Homo sapiens: one gene and its partner. The protein of the gene in region 2 interacts with the protein of the main gene of each other region in a biochemical or structural test. Each region holds a gene or a part of one and is shown on either strand. Other genes may lie near its edges.

The links.
Region 1: the proteins of SERPINB3 (region 2) and CTSK form a complex in vitro, tested with the Homo sapiens proteins (one study listed by BioGRID).

Annotation. Positions count from the first base shown.
Region 1 is NC_000001.11:150,797,115-150,805,521, reverse strand, and holds part of CTSK (cathepsin K preproprotein), read left to right. Parts: intron 1-1,282; coding exon 1,283-1,501; intron 1,502-5,812; coding exon 5,813-5,978; intron 5,979-6,248; coding exon 6,249-6,354; intron 6,355-8,407. UniProt on the Homo sapiens protein: Thiol protease involved in osteoclastic bone resorption and may participate partially in the disorder of bone remodeling. Displays potent endoprotease activity against fibrinogen at acid pH. May play an important role in extracellular matrix degradation.
Region 2 is NC_000018.10:63,657,408-63,667,365, forward strand, and holds the start of SERPINB3 (serpin B3), read right to left. Parts: upstream 4,487-9,958; 5' UTR 4,439-4,486; intron 3,836-4,438; 5' UTR 3,810-3,835; coding exon 3,645-3,809; intron 3,450-3,644; coding exon 3,393-3,449; intron 2,121-3,392; coding exon 1,992-2,120; intron 1,224-1,991; coding exon 1,106-1,223; intron 6-1,105; coding exon 1-5. UniProt on the Homo sapiens protein: May act as a papain-like cysteine protease inhibitor to modulate the host immune response against tumor cells. Also functions as an inhibitor of UV-induced apoptosis via suppression of the activity of c-Jun NH(2)-terminal kinase (JNK1).

The DNA of each region.
Region 1 (8,407 bases), on a different chromosome or scaffold from region 2:
GATTACAGGCACGCGCCACTACGCCTGGCTAATTTTTCTATTTTTATAGAGATGCGTTTTCACCATGTTGGCCAGGCTGGTCTTGAACTGACCTCAGGTGATCCACCTGCCTCAGCCTCCCAAAGTGCTGGGATTAGAGTCATGAGCCATCGCGGCCTGGTTTTTCTTTATTACAAATAGTGTTGCAATAAGCACCCTTGTGCATATGTTTTTGTGCACATGTACAAATATTTATGCAAAATAAGTCCTAAAATTGGAATTGTTAGGTCACAAATAATCCTTTCCCCCCCCCCAAATTTTTTTTTTTTTTTTGAGACAGCGTCTCTGTCACCCAGGCTGGAGTCCAGTGGCGCAATCATGGCTCACTGCAGCCTCAACGTCTCAGGCTCAAGTGATTCTCCAACCTCAGCCTCCCTAGTAGCTGGGATTAGAAGCACATGCCACCACACCCAGCTAATTTTAAAAAATTTTTTGTAGAGACAGAGTTTTGCCATGCTACCCAGGCTGGTCTCAAATTCCTGGGCTCAAGCAATCTGCCCGCTTCGGCCTCCCAAAGTGCTAGGATTACAGACATGAGCCACCATGCCCAGCCCAAAAAAGTTTTTGCAATCTTACATTCTTACTAGCATGAGAATGTCAGTTTTTTCACAACCCAAACAACACAGGATTGTATCAGCAAGATAAACAATTGATTTAACGTTCATTTAACAAACACTTTTTGACCCCCAGAACCTACCAGATGCAGTGTTAGGCAGCAGAGACTCAAGATGACTAAGACACAACCTGTGTCCTCAGGAAATCTCAATCTAAAAAAATAGAACAGGAAAGAAAGAAAAATCTACAATCTAGCTGCACAAACAATAATAGCTAATACTTTTTGAGATTTTATTGTTTGTCAGGAACTTCTTAACTCTTTACATGAGTTAAATATTTAATCCTTATAACAATATTTTATGCATAGAGAAACTGAGACACAGGCAAATTTAGTAACTTACCCGGGGTCACATAGCTACTGGGTGGCAAAGTCAGGGTTAGCACCCAGGACAAATGCCTCCACAGCTGGTACTGTGCTCTGCTTTACTGTAGCTAATAGTAAAAATGGTAGCAAAAATCAATAGCAGTAGAACAGTGCAACAGATATTAAGCGGAAGAGGAAGACTCACAACAATGACAACATTTGTGCTGAAATTTTTAGAACACATGGAATTTCTTCAGGCAGGTAGAGAGAAGATATAGAAAATGTAAACAGCAAAGATTGATAGTTTCTCTGTATGCCTTTCAGGGTCAGTGTGGTTCCTGTTGGGCTTTTAGCTCTGTGGGTGCCCTGGAGGGCCAACTCAAGAAGAAAACTGGCAAACTCTTAAATCTGAGTCCCCAGAACCTAGTGGATTGTGTGTCTGAGAATGATGGCTGTGGAGGGGGCTACATGACCAATGCCTTCCAATATGTGCAGAAGAACCGGGGTATTGACTCTGAAGATGCCTACCCATATGTGGGACAGGTGAGATTGCTCCACACAATTATACAGCTCTGTTGGCTCCTCCTTCCCCAGCATGATGTTTTGTACTGGAAACAATTCCAGAAATACTGTTTTCTGTTATCCTATCCTGCTTTCTTGATGGAATAATTTCCCACAGAAGGCCAAGAAGATTTCCACAATCTGGGGGAATTTAGGGAGCTTAAGCTACTATAGCTCCTATTTGCATCTCTGCCATGGAGAGAAAACAGAGGCTAGGCTACCTACCCCATAGACTTCCGAGCTGGGTTCTATAACCCTCTGCTCAATTCCTCACTCCCACAACAAACCCACAAACCCACCATGCTATTTTCACAAATTGTGTGGCTTTATTTTATATGATCTCAGTGTGAGTTTTCAGAACATTTCAGCAAATTATGTAAGTTTACATGCTAACATCTATAAAATGAGAGAAAAAACAAGTTGCTTCATATAAGAGATAAGGGATTAACTCAGTTCCTCCTGCATGATCCTCTAGTCATAGGAAGGAAATCATATCTGAAAGGGAGGCAACCTGAGGGGTTTTTTATACACATAGGGCTGGGTCTGATAGACAATATAATGTAGGGCCTTCACAACAGAAACCTCTGAAACAGGGACAGCAAGTTTGAGAATAAAAATGATGGCTACTGTGTTCTAAGCCGTGTCCTTAGTGCATTTTTTCTTTTTCTTTTTTTCATTTAATCTCATAACAACTCTGTTAGGTAGACTTATCTTGAATGTATAGGTGAGGAAATGGACACTTAAGGAGATAAGACAGTATAATTCATACCACTAGTATGTAACAATGTAAGATGTATCTACCAGGGATGTTTATCTTCTGCAAACATTCCTAGGTATATCTCCCATGCACATGTGCAAGAATTTCTTACTAGGATATAATGCCTTGGAACTGAATTGTCTGGGTCTTAGGGTATGTCTGTCTTCAACTTTACTACACAATGTCAAATTGTTTGCCAAAATATTTGGAAAAATTTATACCTGCAATGTGTAAGAAATCCCCTTCAATCACCTTTTTATCAGTATGTTTATCTGGCCATTTGCATTTCTTCTTCAGTGAATTAACTGTTTTTATCTCTTGCTCATTTGTTTTTCTTTTTATTTTTTTGAAATAGGGTCTTACTCTGTTGCCCAGGCTGGAGTGTGGTGATATAGTCATAGCTCACTGCAGCCTCCACTTCCTGGGCTCAAGCAATCCTCTCGCCTCAGCCTCCCAAATAGCTAGGATATAGGTGCATGCCATCATGCCCACCAATTTCAAAAAACCTTTGAAATTTTTTTTTGTAGAGGCTAGGCATGGTGGCTCATGCCTGTAATCCCAGCACTTTGGGAGGCTGAGGTGGGAGGATCACTTAAGCCCAGGAGTTCCAGATCAGCCTGGTACAACATAGCAAGACCTCATCTCTACAGAAAAAATTTTTAAAAGTAGCCAGGTATGATGGCGTGCATAGTTCTAGCTACTCAGGAGGCTGGTTGGGAGGACAACTTGAGCCTGGGAGTTCAAGGCTGCTGTGAGCTGTGATCATGTCACTGCTCTCTAGCCTGGGTGACAGAGTGAGACCCTGTCCCCAAAAACAACAACCGTTTTTTTTGGTAGAGACATTGTCTCGCTATGTTGCCAAGGCTAGTCTCAAACTCCTAGGCTCAAGCAATCCTCCCACCTCCCAAAGTGCTGGGATTATAGATGTAAGCCACCATGCCTGGCCTACCCTTTTTTTTTTTTTTTTGAAATGGAGTTTTGCTTTTGTCACCTAGGCTTGAGTGCAGTGGCGCGATCTTGGCTCACTGCAACCTCCACCTCCTGGATTCAAGCAATTCTCCTGCCTCAGCCTCCTGAGTAGCTGGGATTATAGGCACCCGCAACCACGCCCGGCTAGTTTTTGTATTTTTAGTACAGACAGGGTTTCACCATGTTGGCCAGGCTGGTCTTGAACCCCTGACCTCAGGTGGTCCGCCCGCCTCGGCCTCCCAAAGTGCTGGGATTACAGGTGTGAGCCACCATGCCCCACCCCTTACTCATTTTTAATTGGATTGTTTTTTCTCTTTCTTAGCGATTCTTAAAAGTTTAAAGAGAATATTTGGATACAATACTATGTATTTAAAAGTTGAGGTTTGTCTTTTCATTCTTTTTATGATGTCTTTCAATCTAGAAAAGTTAATTTTAATAGGCCTGGCGCGGTGGCTCACGCTTGTAATCCCAGCACTTTGGGAGGCTGAGATGGGTGGATCACAAGGTCAGGAGATCAAGACCATCCTGGCTAACATGGTGAAACCCTGTCTCTACTAAAAATACAAAAAAATTAGCTGGGCGTGGTGGCAGGTGCCTGTAGTTCCAGCTACTCGGGAGGCTGAGGCAGGAGAATGGCGTGAACCCGGGAGGTGGAGCTTGCAGTGAGCCGAGATTGCACCACTGCACTCCAGCCTGGGCAACTGAGCAAGACTGCGTTTCAAAAAAAAAAAAAAGTTAATTTTAATATAGTAAAATTAGTAAAATGATTAATTTTCCTTTGCAATTTTTGTAATGTGTTTTATTCGTTTATGAATGGAGAAAGGTAAGAAAAAATAAAATTTAAAAAAGAAGAGATGTGGCCAGGTACGGTGGCTCACACCTATAATCCCAGTAGTTTGGGAGGCTGAGGCAGGCAGATCACTTGAGGTCAGGAGTTTGAGACCAGCTGGGATAACATGGTGAAACCCCATCTCTACTAAAAATACAAAAATTAGCCAGGTGTGATTGCGCACGCTTGTAATCCCAGCAGGCTGAGGCAGGAGAATTGCTCGAACTCAGGAGGCAGAGGTTGCAGTGAGCCAAGATCATGCCATTGCACTCCAGCCTGGGTAACAGAGACTCTGTCTCAAAAAATAAAAAGATAAAAAAGAAGAGATCTGATAGGGCGGCCAGATAACATTTTAAAGGGATGGTATTATAAGTTTGTTCCAGCATAATGCAGGTTATTCTGACTTTAAAGTATCATCACATAATATCTTTTTGAGTCAATTTCCAAGATATTCTGTTTCACTTGTAATTCTGTGTAATTTTTGGCACCAGGAGGCATCAGGGATTTGGAGCACATGGCAGAAACAAAGGCATCTTGAAAAATATCAAGGCAGTAGACCACTGTAATCTTAAAATGGCATATCAAATGCTGCTATTGCTGTTAATATTTAGATAATGTTAGATAATGTATTTTTTTAGAGGGTATCTCACTATCTTGCACAGGCTGGAGTAGAGTGGCTATTCACAGCATGATCACAGTACACTAAAGGCTCAAACTCCTGGGCACAAACAATCCTCCTGCCTCAGCCTGCTGAGTAGTAGATAATAAGTTCTTGTGGATGCAACCTTAGGGTTCTGAAGGGGTAGTCTGTAGGAAAATGAATTGCTGAAAAGAATACACCACCTTAACATGGGCTATTATTCGATTCCATAATTGTGGCTTGCCAATGAAACATTGCTAACTACCTGTAAAATATAGTGTTGGAAGTCATAGGCTAAATTGCTAAGTTCTTTAATCTATTTTAGTGTCTTGTTATGTACTTTTATATTTTGTCTTTGATGAGAGCACAAGGATCACACCAGTTCCCCTGATATAGGTGCAGAGGGCCCAGGTCTTCCCTCTAGCTAAGCCTTGGCCTTGGCCTCCTACCCACACAGCAGCTGGTGCCTTCCTGCCCCCTGAGGCTAATACATACTATGTGGCCAGAAGATGGTTTATGCTTTTTAAAAAAATCTTATTTCAGAAATCTTTCCCTACTGTTTTCCTCCCACATTTATGTCTTAAAACACCTGTAGTTGATTTTTTTTTTTTTTGAGATGGAGTCTCGCTCTCGCCCAGGCTGGAGTGCAATGGCGCGATCTTGGCTCACTACAAGGTCTGCCTCCCAGGTTCACGCCATTCTCCTGCCTCAGCCTCCCCAGTAGCTGGGACTACAGGCGCCCGCTACCACGCCTGGCTAATTTTTTTGCATTTTTAGTAGAGACAGGGTTTCACTGTGTTAGCCAGGATGGTCTCGATCTCCTGACCTCGTGATCCACCCTCCTCAGCCTCCCAAAGTGCTGGGATTACAGGCATGAGCCACCGCACCTGGCCTGTAGTTGGTTTTTATGTGTGGTGGAAGGCGGGAATCCTCTTTTCATATTCGTTTTTCTGAGGAAGAACAGACCCTCTCTAGAAACCCTAGACTGCTGCCTCTGTTAGTTCACTGGCATCACTCAAAATATTGGTTGAGTTTCTTACTCACTGACTCATTGCCTATTGCTTTGTCCTAGTCCTATTACAATCTTGTTTCTTCCAGGAAGAGAGTTGTATGTACAACCCAACAGGCAAGGCAGCTAAATGCAGAGGGTACAGAGAGATCCCCGAGGGGAATGAGAAAGCCCTGAAGAGGGCAGTGGCCCGAGTGGGACCTGTCTCTGTGGCCATTGATGCAAGCCTGACCTCCTTCCAGTTTTACAGCAAAGGTAAGAAGCTGCTGATCCTATACAGCACTGTCTTTTATGATACAAACTTGATGGTTTCTCGAAGGACCTTGGGTATTTTCAGTACTTAGTTTTTGTATTCACATGGAGGTGGCCAGAGAGAAATTAACAACTGCTGCAGTATGGAGCAGCATCTCTGTGGTAAACCCTCCTGACACGGATGGAATTCTTCAAACAGTCTCCTAGACTGGGAGATCCCACAGGGTGACCCTTGGATTGCATAGAGCCTCACGCTGGTAGTTTGTATTCTAGGTGTGTATTATGATGAAAGCTGCAATAGCGATAATCTGAACCATGCAGTTTTGGCAGTGGGATATGGAATCCAGAAGGGAAACAAGCACTGGATAATTAAAAACAGGTAATGATGGGAACACTACTTTTGTTATTCAGTCACCCTTTTAACACTCAACCTCACCTCCAGCTTCCCGATATTCCTTTCTCTGTCCCAAATCAAGAAAAAATTATCTCAGAGTTCTCACTTCTATCTTCTCAGTCAGAGGCTCTTAATTCTCAGTCTGACACTTAATGGCCAGTGTGTTAGTCCATTTTGCATTGCCACAAAAGAATACCCGAGACTGGGTAATTTATAAAGAAACGAGGTTTGTTTGGCTATACAAAGCGTGGCACTAGTATCTGCTCAGCCTCTGATGAGGCCTCAGAGCTTTTACTCATGGCAGAAGGCAAAAGAGGGAGCAGGCATGTCACATAGTGAGAGAGGGAGCAAGAGAGAGAGGGAGGTGCCGACTCTTTAAAGAACCAGCTCTTGCATGAACTAATAGAGTGAGAACTCACTCATCACCAAGGCGATGGCACCAAGCCATTCATGAGGAATCCACTCTCATAACCCAAACACCTCCCACTATGCCCCACCTCCCACATTGGGGATCACATTTCAGCATGAGACTGGGAGGGGACACACATCCAAACCATATCCGCCAGACAATAGTGCTCAATTATGTGCTGGGCAGATGCTCCCTGTGTGCAAGGTGCTTAGTGACATACATAAACCAACGAGCAGATGACACCTTCAGTGAGCTCAGAGCCCAATAAGACAGACCTAACTAACCATGAGATAAAGCAGTACAAAGAACCAGCAGGAGCTTTGGAATTACGTATTTTTACTTTCTTTTGTCTCTAATGTGATCAGTTTCTTAGATGGTTTCCATTAGCAATCTGTCTTTAACAGTAGGGGAACAGCGTAAAGGTTTAATATTCCTTTGAACAGTTTTTTTCCTTCAAAATACACTTAAGATACACGTATATAAGAACTTGCCAAAGATTGTGAAGAGAAACATTTTTTAGAAATAAGATATAAACAAAAAAAGTTAGTGTTTACTTTCCTATGTTGGGGAACAAAGAAAACTCCAGGGTACCTTGCTTCCCATTTCTCTTTAGCACCTTGTGACTTTTGGGGAGGGGCAGATTGATAACAATTATAGTTTTCCTTTCCTGGCTGATCACCATTAACCTGGCAGCAGCACTGGCTAAATCTCCTGTCCTTAGTGCCCTCCAAGGAGCAGGAGCCCTAGACTCTGGGTCGCTGACAGACTCACGCAGTGGTGTTGTTCAAACCTGAAGCAACTTTTTATATCACAGTTCCAACTCAAGGTGAACCTGAGCATCTTCCCAAGTCTCCCACAGCTTCTGTCCTGTGTTGTCCCTTCTCTTGACTCCCAGGTCCAAGCACTTACCCTGTTCTTTCATGATCAGGTACCATGTGTGGAGATAGCTTCCAAGAGAGCTGGGAGGAAGAAAGGACACACCCGGGCAGGATCAGGAACACTGGGGGCCCCTGGAGAAGGGGAGAGTGGGGGAGGGTACAGGTTTTAAATAAAATGTGTTGGGTAATTAGAGAAGTTGCTGGTTGGGGAAAGAGGACTGAAAACAATTCAGGAAGATAAACAGACAATCTCTCCTCTCTCCTCTTTCTCACGTCGTCTCTCTTGTCTTCTAGTCTCGCTACTCATTTCCTTAGTAATCTCATCCACTCTCATAGTTTCATCCATCTCTCCTATGGGGTTTACTCCCAAATCAAGATCACCAGCTTCAGCCTCTTTCTTATGCTCTAAACTCACATTTTCAAGATTAATATTCCCCAAATACAGCTCTGATCATATCACTCTCCCACTCAAAATCCCTCACTGGCTCCTCACGATGATGGGTCACAGAGTAAAGGTGAAGCTTTTTAACCTTGCAGTAAAGGTAATTCAACCTGATCTCAATCTGCCTTTCCAGACATCTCTCCCACTACACCCTGTTAGGCACACTGCTTTTCAGCTACATGATCCTAACAGTGCCCCACACTTTCCTGCCTCTGTTGTTCATTTCACACCCTTCCACTGGCATCCCCTTCCCACAGGTCGAAATTCTACTTAGCCTTTTGGCTCAGCTCAAATGCCACCTCTTACATC
Region 2 (9,958 bases):
TTTTTCTGCAAGGGAAAGAATAAAAGAGTCTTTTACACAAGCTACAAATGGCTTGTCTGGAAGATGCTTTGCAAATGTTCGTGACTGATCGTTAATTATTGACCCAAATCCCTACTTGAGACTCACTGACTTTGATCTTTGAATTGTTAGACTCACTGACCAGTGGTTCACCAGATGCAGCTTTCTTCAAGGCTCCAGTCGTATAAAGTTGCCCTTAATGGAGACATCACTTCTTGTGATAGAGAAGGAGTTCACGTTCTCTGTGTATGAATGAGTCCATTCATCTGATTTGGAATACTGATAAACTGATTTTGTCTACTCTTTCAACATGTGTCTTTCCTTTCTCCCTCCCTCCTCTTCCTACTTTTTTTTTTTTTTTTTTAACTACGGGGTCCCCATTCAGAGGAAGTAGGCCCTGACTGCTTTTTAGGACAAGTGACATGAGCTCTGTAATATGAAACGCATGTCCTGTGCTGTCAGACACTACTTCCGGGGGTATCTTCCTATTCACTCTCATGTTGAGTTGCTGTAAGTTTGGCCTGTAATGAGAGGTGGGAGGTAGGATAGATGTCTATAGAATGGAGAATTTGTTAAGCTCTTGCCCTTGATGGGGAAGAGAGCTGTGATAATCCCTGCAGAACTTGTGGCTAGAGATGTGATCCAGGCAGCTCTAGTTCAGATGGCAAAAGGGTGATTTACCAGAGAGCTGCTTGTTTCCCAATTAGTAAAGGGGAAGGGAGATGCTTTCTAATGTTTCCTTTTAAATATTCATCATAAAATATTGGTTCTGATTTAAAGTAAAGGACATGATCTCAAATTGGACCTGAGTGGAGACAAGGGATCCACAAAGCTATTGTCATCCAGGAACATGAGCAAAGAATCCTCCGGCTATGTTTTCTTCTAATTGGCTTCCTGTGATTTCCTCCTTGGCTCCCCTAGGCTCTCTTCATAATCATTTGGAAAAACTCTTCATCTGGAGTGCCCTCTTCTTCCCTCCCTGCAAAGCCATCTCAATTCCCACCCATGGTCCCCCATGCAGTTTCAGGCATAGGGCTCACTCGCATAGATTTCTCAAAGGTGTTTCTATAATGGGTGGCTCTCCTACCATTCGTTTGACTTTCCACCCAGGAGTTAATCTTCTTTCGACTTTCTTCTGGAGCATTTGCAAAATCAACAGATTCCACACTGGTCTGGTAAAATTTCTTGATGGCATCTAAATATTCCTTTGAGATATGAAGGAAGAAAGTAGGAAGTAAGAGTAATTTATGTAACTATATATTACCAAATTTAGTTATTTATAATTATAGTAAGCTGAATCCAGACCCTGAATAGATGCAGTATCTCCTGTCCATGCATATTTTTATACTGGTGCCATGTAGGCAATGCAAAAGCGGAGTGCGGGCTGGCGCAAGAAAGAGGTCACCGAAGGTCAATATCATCTGGCAAAAGGCAGAAGCAGAAGAGGCTGTGGTTTGCAAACTGCAGAGCAGGCTTCCCTGAAGGAGATTCATTGCTTCTCAGACCTCTTTCCAGTAATTTCAACCATGATGTTTCTGATCTTTGTTTTTATCTTTCATCCTGTGCATTCAGTATTTCCTGGTACTTCCTCAACTATTCTCAGGAACTCACCCAAGCCTGCCCATTCCAATAATATCCCATTAGTCATACATTTCCCACCAAGATGTATCGTATGTGACTGAGTCAGTGCCAGTTTATCGATGGTATCTTATTACTTATTACTCTTACTCACTCTATTACCCAACCTCCTCTTTTATTACAAGATTATCCCTAAATCCACACTTCAGTGATGTATTGTTAGGGTCTGGGACACTCCAGTGGGGGAGAGTTGTGGAAACGGAGCTATTGCACTCTGAGTAAATGCTCTCCACCTGGATCGGTCAGGCTCATCTGCCTTGCTTTCTTCCATTTGGCCACTCAGAGACACAGACATCAGGATGCAAATGAAATGTGGGTAGGCCAGGTGAAATTACCTGTAAAAATAGATACGTTTTTTCTCCGAAGAGCTTGTTGGCGATCTTCAGCTCATATGCATCAGTGGATTTGTTGAATTCAGTCAGAAGCTTTTGAAACTGGTGATGAACATTTCCTGACCTATCAACCTTCAAACATCAAAAAAGGAGATCATTCAATTGCTGTATCAATGTAAATACTAAACCCATGCTAAGTCTGTTAGATCAGTCCCTAATGGCTGGTAGTCTCAATGAGGACCTTTGAGCTTATTCCCTGATACTTGGTGTATTTCACCTCAAATACCCTTCAAAATCCACCTTATGTTTCACTTCTTCCAGGAAATTCTTCTTGCTCTAATGTACTGCAATCTTTTCTCTTCTGAACTATAGATGCAGCACTGTCTACCACTGGATTTTGTCCTTGTTGGTTTAAAGGGTTAGGTTTAGCTTCCCAGTTAAACTCTCAGCTCCTTAAAGGCAAGGACCATATTTCACTTCTAACAGTCATCAAGGATATGAGTATGTTGAAGGTTGGATATTTTAAATAGATTATGCCAGGAAGCCCTGTTATACCTGTTGGTGCTGTTATCTTGTAGGACACATTGACTGATCTGTGACTGTTTCCTCATGATGGTCATTCTCTGCACGTAAGAAGAGTGTGTGCCAGGTACATGGCTAAGGACTTTACATGGGTAACTTTAAGTCTTTAGTTCAATTCAGGTGAAAACAAGAAAGCTCAGAGAATGGAAAGTAAACCTCTTCATAGAGACATAAATTAGAAGTGCCACGTTTTGAACCTAAGCCTGTTTAAATCTAGAAACTTCTACTTTCCAGCAAAGCATTTTGCACTATTAAGGCTCTAAACCAATATATTCCATAGCAATCATTTTCCAAAATATAGTTGGACTTGTGCTTATTCCTCTTTATCTCATTAATGACTCAATGAAAATTAAATATTTTGCAACATTATTGTGATTAGTATAATTATAGCTATTTTATAATAATAATAACATTTATTATGACATTTTATGGGCAAGGCAATGTTGTAAACATTTGCATGTATTTGCATGTATTGAGTCAGATTTCTTATTACCCTTAGTTTTCTGGGATGAGGTCACTGGGACTCTGAGCAGTTGTGTCCTGCTCATGTTCACCATTTGTGAAGAGCAAAGCTGGAGTCTGAACCTAGCCTATCCTGATCCAGACCTATGCTCTGAGGTACAGTGCTGACTGTCTTTCAGTAACGAAGAAAGGAGGAATAATAATTATGTGCCATGAAATGCCAACCCACTCTGTATGTCTCAATCTTTGTGTCCAAGATTTTCCCTAAAAATGGCCTTTTCTTAGTTTCTGTGAAGTTCCAGGTTCAAACTATGACCTGTTCGGGGATCTAAAGCTGAACCATAGTGCTCTGTGACTCACATGATATGTTGCAGCTTTTCCTGTGGTGTTCTCTGTGACTTGATCAAAGTGAAGAACCTGGAAGAGACATGAAGCGGGACAAGAAAACTTTACTCAAAAGATCTGTTTAAGTCAGTGGTCTCACAGTTACGGGAATTCCTGCTCAGCCCCCTGTGCTACCCATCAGACCACCACATCTATTACCATCTGCGTGCTAGCCGACGGAACCAGAGAAAAACTGCAACAGGACAACATAATGATGCTGATAGCTACCTTCTTAATCTGTTGTGCAGTGTTGTCTTTGGCTCCTAAGAGGACCATCCCTAATGCTGATGTGATGCTGATAGGGGAATAGAAGATGTTGTTCTCTTTTGATTTTCTGAACTGTTGGAACAGGTCGAACATGAACTTGGTGTTGGCTTCACTGAGTGAATTCATGGTGAACTCGATGTGATCTGGAACTCCTGGAAAAGCATCAGATTCCTGTCAGAATGACTTTAATAAATGGAATGGTATTTTGTAGTACAATTTTCTTAAAGAAATTATATATCTGTGTTGTGAGATTTTGACATTTAAAGTTTTCCTCATCTTATTTTTAACGTTTCAATCTTTCTACAATGTGCATATATTAAATATATTAATGTCTTAATTAGAAGCCTCACAAAATTAGTGTTTTTAAAGACTACTGTAAATAAGTAATAGACCCTCTTTCCTTCATTGCTGGCTACACTAGGGCTAGGTAGGAAGGCTTTACAATGAATGCTAACAGGAGACCTCTGTGGATCACATCCAACCAGCTGTTAAGATGCGTCCCTGACATCTCCTTCAAGACTCTCTGGCTGCAAGGCACTCTCCCTCTGTGTTCCTAAAAGTGCCTTGGTTTACTTGGAACTAAGCAATTTAGATAAAGGACAAATCAGATGAAATAGGTATTTTAATTTTGCTCTGGCAGAATAAGTAAAATATAATCAGACAGAATGCAGGAGATGCATGATATAGAACACAGTATCATTATTATTCTCAAAAATAATTCATGTTATTAAGCTGGAGAGGCTTGAAGCTCTTACCTGTGTTCCTAGAGGAAGCAGAGGTGGGCAGAGAGGCTATGTGTGTCTGTGGAATGAAGGGTGAGATCCTGAATTTATGCCTCTCCTCTTGCTGCCTCTCCCTCTGTGGTTAGTATTTGAAGTTACTCAACTTCAGATTTCACAAGCGGGCTAACACTCACCTTTATGAATACGAAAATTTATGACAAAGGACAGGATTACAGTTCTACCATTGTACCTCCTTTTTAATCTATAGGGAAAAAATAAGAATGCAAGTCAGCAGTCACCGGCTCATGTGAAATACATGTAGGTGCCTTTCTAATGCCAATGAGAATAAGTTTAGAATTCCAATTTCCTCTCATTTGTTTCAACTCCATCCCTTTGTATTCTACTCCAGCTGTAAAACAAAAACAAAAACAAACAAACAAAAACCCCACCATTCTTTTCTTGGATTTTGCATTGTCTTTTAGGCATACTTCGAATACCAAAGAACTAAAAAGCTTACATTTCCTGTTTTTCAGTTCTGAAAGTTTTTGTCATCCTATGAATTTCCTTAGTAATTTTTCTGTATAACAAGGAATATAGTGCTAATTCTAAGTCCAAAGAGATAGTGAAGAAGTGTACTTCAGTATCTTATAGCATACTATGGAGAATAGGATTCTATTGCCTTCTCCTGAATGCTCAGCTTTGGCAGTGATCCTACCAGTCACTTCCTGTGCCCCTTACAACCATCCCAGATGGTTTTCTGTTGCATAGGCTCAGTGAGAAAGTTATCTGCCTTGCTGAGTGATATGGTTTGGCTGTGTTCCCACCCAAATCTCAACTTGAATTGTATCTACCAGAATTTCCACATGTTGTTGGAGGGACCCAGGTAGAGGTAATTGAATCATGGGGGCCGGTCTTTCTTGTGCTATTCTCATGATAGTTAATAAGTCTCAGGAGATCCAATGGGTTTATTAGGGGTTTCTTCTTTTGCTTCTTCCTCATTTTCTCTTGCAGCCACCATGTAAGAATAACTTTTGCCTCCTACCGTGATTCTGAGGCCTCCCCAATCACGTGGAACTCTAAGTCCAATTAAACCTCTTTTACTTCCTAATCTCAGGTATGTCTTTATCAGCAGCATGAAAACAGACTAACACATTGAGTTAACAGGCTGACACTGAGAAGAGCAATTGAAACAGACGGGCCATTTTGAATGTCAGCTTTCTAATTTTTCATTTAAAAATTAAGCAGAAAAAGAAGTTGCTTGACCTGTCAGGATCACAACGTTTCTTGGTGGTCCTTCCATTTAGCACCTGGCTTCAGACTCATTCCAGTGTTTCCTCTGGAATATCTTGTAATCTGAAGAATGTCTGTGGCCAGGGAGAGGGTTGTTGTCCAAGGCCATTTAATCCAATATCTCCCTGACAACCAGAGTGGGGGGCTGTTTGTTTTGTGGACCCCCTTTTTTAACATATAATTTATATGCCACAAATTCAACTGTACAATTCAATGATTTTATTATATTCACAAAGTTGTGCTATCACCATCATGATCTCGTTCCACAACAATTTCACTACCTCCAAAAGAAAACTTGTATCTCGTTCTTCCCTTACTCGAGACCCTGGAAACCAGTAATCTACCTCCTGTTTCTATGGATTTGCCTATTCTAAACATTTCACGTAAATCGAATCATACAGTAAGTCCTTTTGTGACTGGCTTCTTTCATCTAGTATTATCTTCAAGGTTTGTCCACGTCATTGCATGGATCAGTACATCATTCCTTTTTGTGGTCGAATAATATTCCATTCTATGAATAGACCACATTTTCTTTATTCATAAGTTGATGGACATTTGTGTTGTTTCCATCCATTTACTATTATGAATAATGATGTTTTGACTTTTCATGTACATTTTTTTGCATGGCATATTTCTTCATTTCTTTTGAGTATAAACCTATGAATGAAATCGCTGGGTCATATGGTAAATCCAGGTTAACATTTTGAGGAAATGCCAGACTCTTCTCCATAGAATTCTGCACAAGTGTGCATTCCAACCGACTGTGAATAGAGTTCTGATTTCTCCACATTCTCCCCAACACTTGGTATTGTCATGGGCCCTTTTTAACACCAGCCATGAGTTTGTTTTCTCAGCACATCATGAAGTCAAGGGAGATTCATCTACAACAAGGTTCCGGAAACAGATAGGATGAAGTAGGGGCTGGACGGGAGAAAGGAAGCTGTGTTTCCAATCTGGAAGTTTCTCACCTGCCTGTTTCCTCAACCCCCAAGACATGCTCTTCTTAGGTCTCCTGTATCAATATATATGTTTGGAGTCTCTGAATGAGTTTGGGAGGTATAAGTTCCCTGATTTAAGTTGGGTAATAGACTAATGGGGTGTTGATGATCTAAAAAGCTCAAAGATAGGAGAGAAAGAAACAAGAGGAAATATCCTAGATGAAGAATTCCAAAAATGAATAATGGTCTTCTTAGCTGAGTCTGCATCCAGGGCTGTAAGAGAAAAATGGACCTTCCTGTATATGGAGAAGGATGGGTTTACTTGGGTACCAAAGCGAAGGAATCTAACGTCTCATAGGACAGAAGCAAGAAGCTCAGCCTGGGAATAGAGGGGAATAAAAAGCAGGATAACAAGCTGAGGCAAACTGGGATTACAGGGGACCAGTCTATGGAAGAGAATTTCAGACTATGGCTAAATCTTCTGAGATGCTGAGGTTTGTCATGAAGGTTGAACTTGAGGAAAGGTACTAACTGAAAATGACCAGGAGTTTGCTTAAATTTAGAGAAAGCTTGGATGAGTTCAAATGAGAAACCATTTCAGACATTTTTTTCTGTTCCTAAAAAGTACTCCTGGCATGTGATAGACATTCTTGACAGGACATATCCTGATGTGCGAGATGGGACATATCCTGATGTCATATATTGCCACAGAGAGCTCAGGAATTCCAAGAAGTTTTTTGCATGTGAACACTTGCCAACTTATGTATCTTGGCATTTCATAAACCTATGCCAACTTCATTGGATCCAGGAATCCAGAAATTAAAAACAAATCCTCAATGGGAAATTACACTTTCAGGAAATATCCTGTCATTACTAATGTCTTTATAGGTTGGTTAACAAATATCTCCTAGATTTTCCTGGACCTCACTTCCTTATGAAGGCTGTAAAGTTTTCTCAGCATTGTGAAGTTACAAATTAAAGAGAACATTTATTTATTGTTTCTTACCTATGTGCTTGTGCCTATCTATAGGGAAACTGGTTAGTGGAAGAGATTTTTCAAGCATCAAATAACAGAATATATGCCAATTACTGTATTCCCAAGGATCTCTCTACAGATGTGAATATGTATATATTGAACAACCTCAGAATAAGATTAACTAGCTTTCCTTTCTTAGTTTTCATGAGGGAAAACAACTCCAGTAAGGTTTGAAAAGCAGAGCGGGAAATAGTCTCACATGTATGTTGCAGGAAGTCAGGGACCCTGAACCGAGGGACTGGCTGAAGCCATGGCAGAAGAACATAGATTATGAAGTTTTCATGGACATTTATTAGTTCCCCAAATTAATACTTTTATAATTTCTTATGCCTGTCTTTACTGCAATCTCTGAACATAAATTGTGAAGATTTCATGAACACTTATCACTTCCTCAATCAATACCCTTGTGATTTCCTATGCCTGTCTTTACTTTAATCTCTTAATCCCATCATCTTTGCAAGCTGAGGAGAATGTATGTGGTCCCAGGACCCTGTGATGATTGCATTAACTGCATAAATTATTTGTAGAGCATGTGTGTTTGAACAATATGAAATCTGGGCACCTTGAAAAAAGAACAGGATAACAGCAATGTTCAGGGAACATGAGTGATAACCTTAAACTCTGACCGCCGGTGAGCTGGGTGGAACAGAGCCATATTTCTCTTCTTTCAAAAGCAAATGGGAGAAATATCGCTGAATTCTTTTTCTCATCAAGGAACATCCCTGAGAAAGAGAATATGCCCCTGAGGGTAGGCCTTTAAAATGGCCGCTTTGGGGGGCAGCCGTCTTTTATGGTTGAAGCTGTAGGGATGAAATAAGCCCCAACCTCCCGTAGCGCTCCTAGGCTTATTAGGATGAGGAAAGTCCCATCTAATAAATTTTTGGTCAGACCGGTTGTCTGCTCTCAAACCCTGTCTCCTGATAAGATGTTATCAATGACAATGCGTGCCCGAAACTTCATTAGCAATTTTAATTTCACCCAGGTCCTGTGGTCCTGTGATCTCACCCTGCCTCCATTTGCCTTGTGATATTCTATCACCTTGTGAAGCACGTGATCTCTGTGACCCACACTCTATTCGTACACTCCCTCTCCTTTTGAAATCACTAATAAAAACTTGCTGGTTTTGTGGCTCAGGGGGTATCATGGAACCTGCCAAACTGTGATGTCTTCCCCAGACACCCAGCTTTAAAATTTCTCTCTTTTGTACTCTATCCCTTTATTTCTCAGACCAGCCGACACTTAGGGAAAATAGAAAAGAACCTACGTGAAATATCAGGGGTGAATTTTACCTGATATCTGGCTGAATTTCCCCTGATATATGTAATTACAGTAGCACAGACAAAATGATATTATCTCTTGCCTCCCTTCCTCCTTCCTACTCAACCAACACCACCAGGGACAGACATCATATTTACTGTATGCTTTCAAACCAAACCAAATCTAACCTGGTCCCCTTAGTCTTCTCTTATAACTCTCTCCCTGATTCCTCTTGGCCTTCTTTTTCTATTGCGAAGAAACATCCTATACTGATGTTCTCCCTTTTACTAGAACTGTCCTTCTTCCTCCTTGCTTTATCTGCACTATGGATTTTCCCTGATGGCTGCATGCCCCTTGATCTTTTCTCATGGGTATCTACTCACTCCTCCATTCTCATACCATGAAGCCAGGAAGCATGATCTTCTCTTTTATTCCTACTGCTTTTCTAGCCATCGTTTTTCTCTGTCTTCAATGTCCTATTTTAATTTTGTTGGCCATGCAGGTATACCATGTACCTCCTACCATCTTCTATGCTGCTCCTTCATATTCACTAAGTAATCTATCACATCTCCGCTCTTTATTCAAACTGCTTCAATTATTCTGAGTGACTTCAAAGCTTTCATTTGATTGGCAACAGACAGCCAATGTTATTTTACATCTCTTTTCTAGTTTAATTTCCTCTTTCGTGAATTGTCTTTCTTTTACCCTTTTGTTCATTGGAATCCTTGTGTTTCATGTACCTGAATATGGTTTTTTACATAAAAAATGTAACTATTGTTGATGCTTGTCTCTGGAGTACCAATGGAGATGTGAAGTTCTAGAGACATAAAGAAATTTGCCCTCATGGGAATGTGGCTGTGCTGGGTATCTTATTTTGCTTCTTCAGTTACACCTTTCATTCTTCTCTACCTCGTATGGGTTCCAAGAAGCTGAGTTGTACAGAGACATAATAAGGCTCCTGTGCCCTCTGGCATCCAGTTAGATTTGGTCAATGGCAGGCACCAAGAGTAGGTCAGCAACTAGGTGAAGACA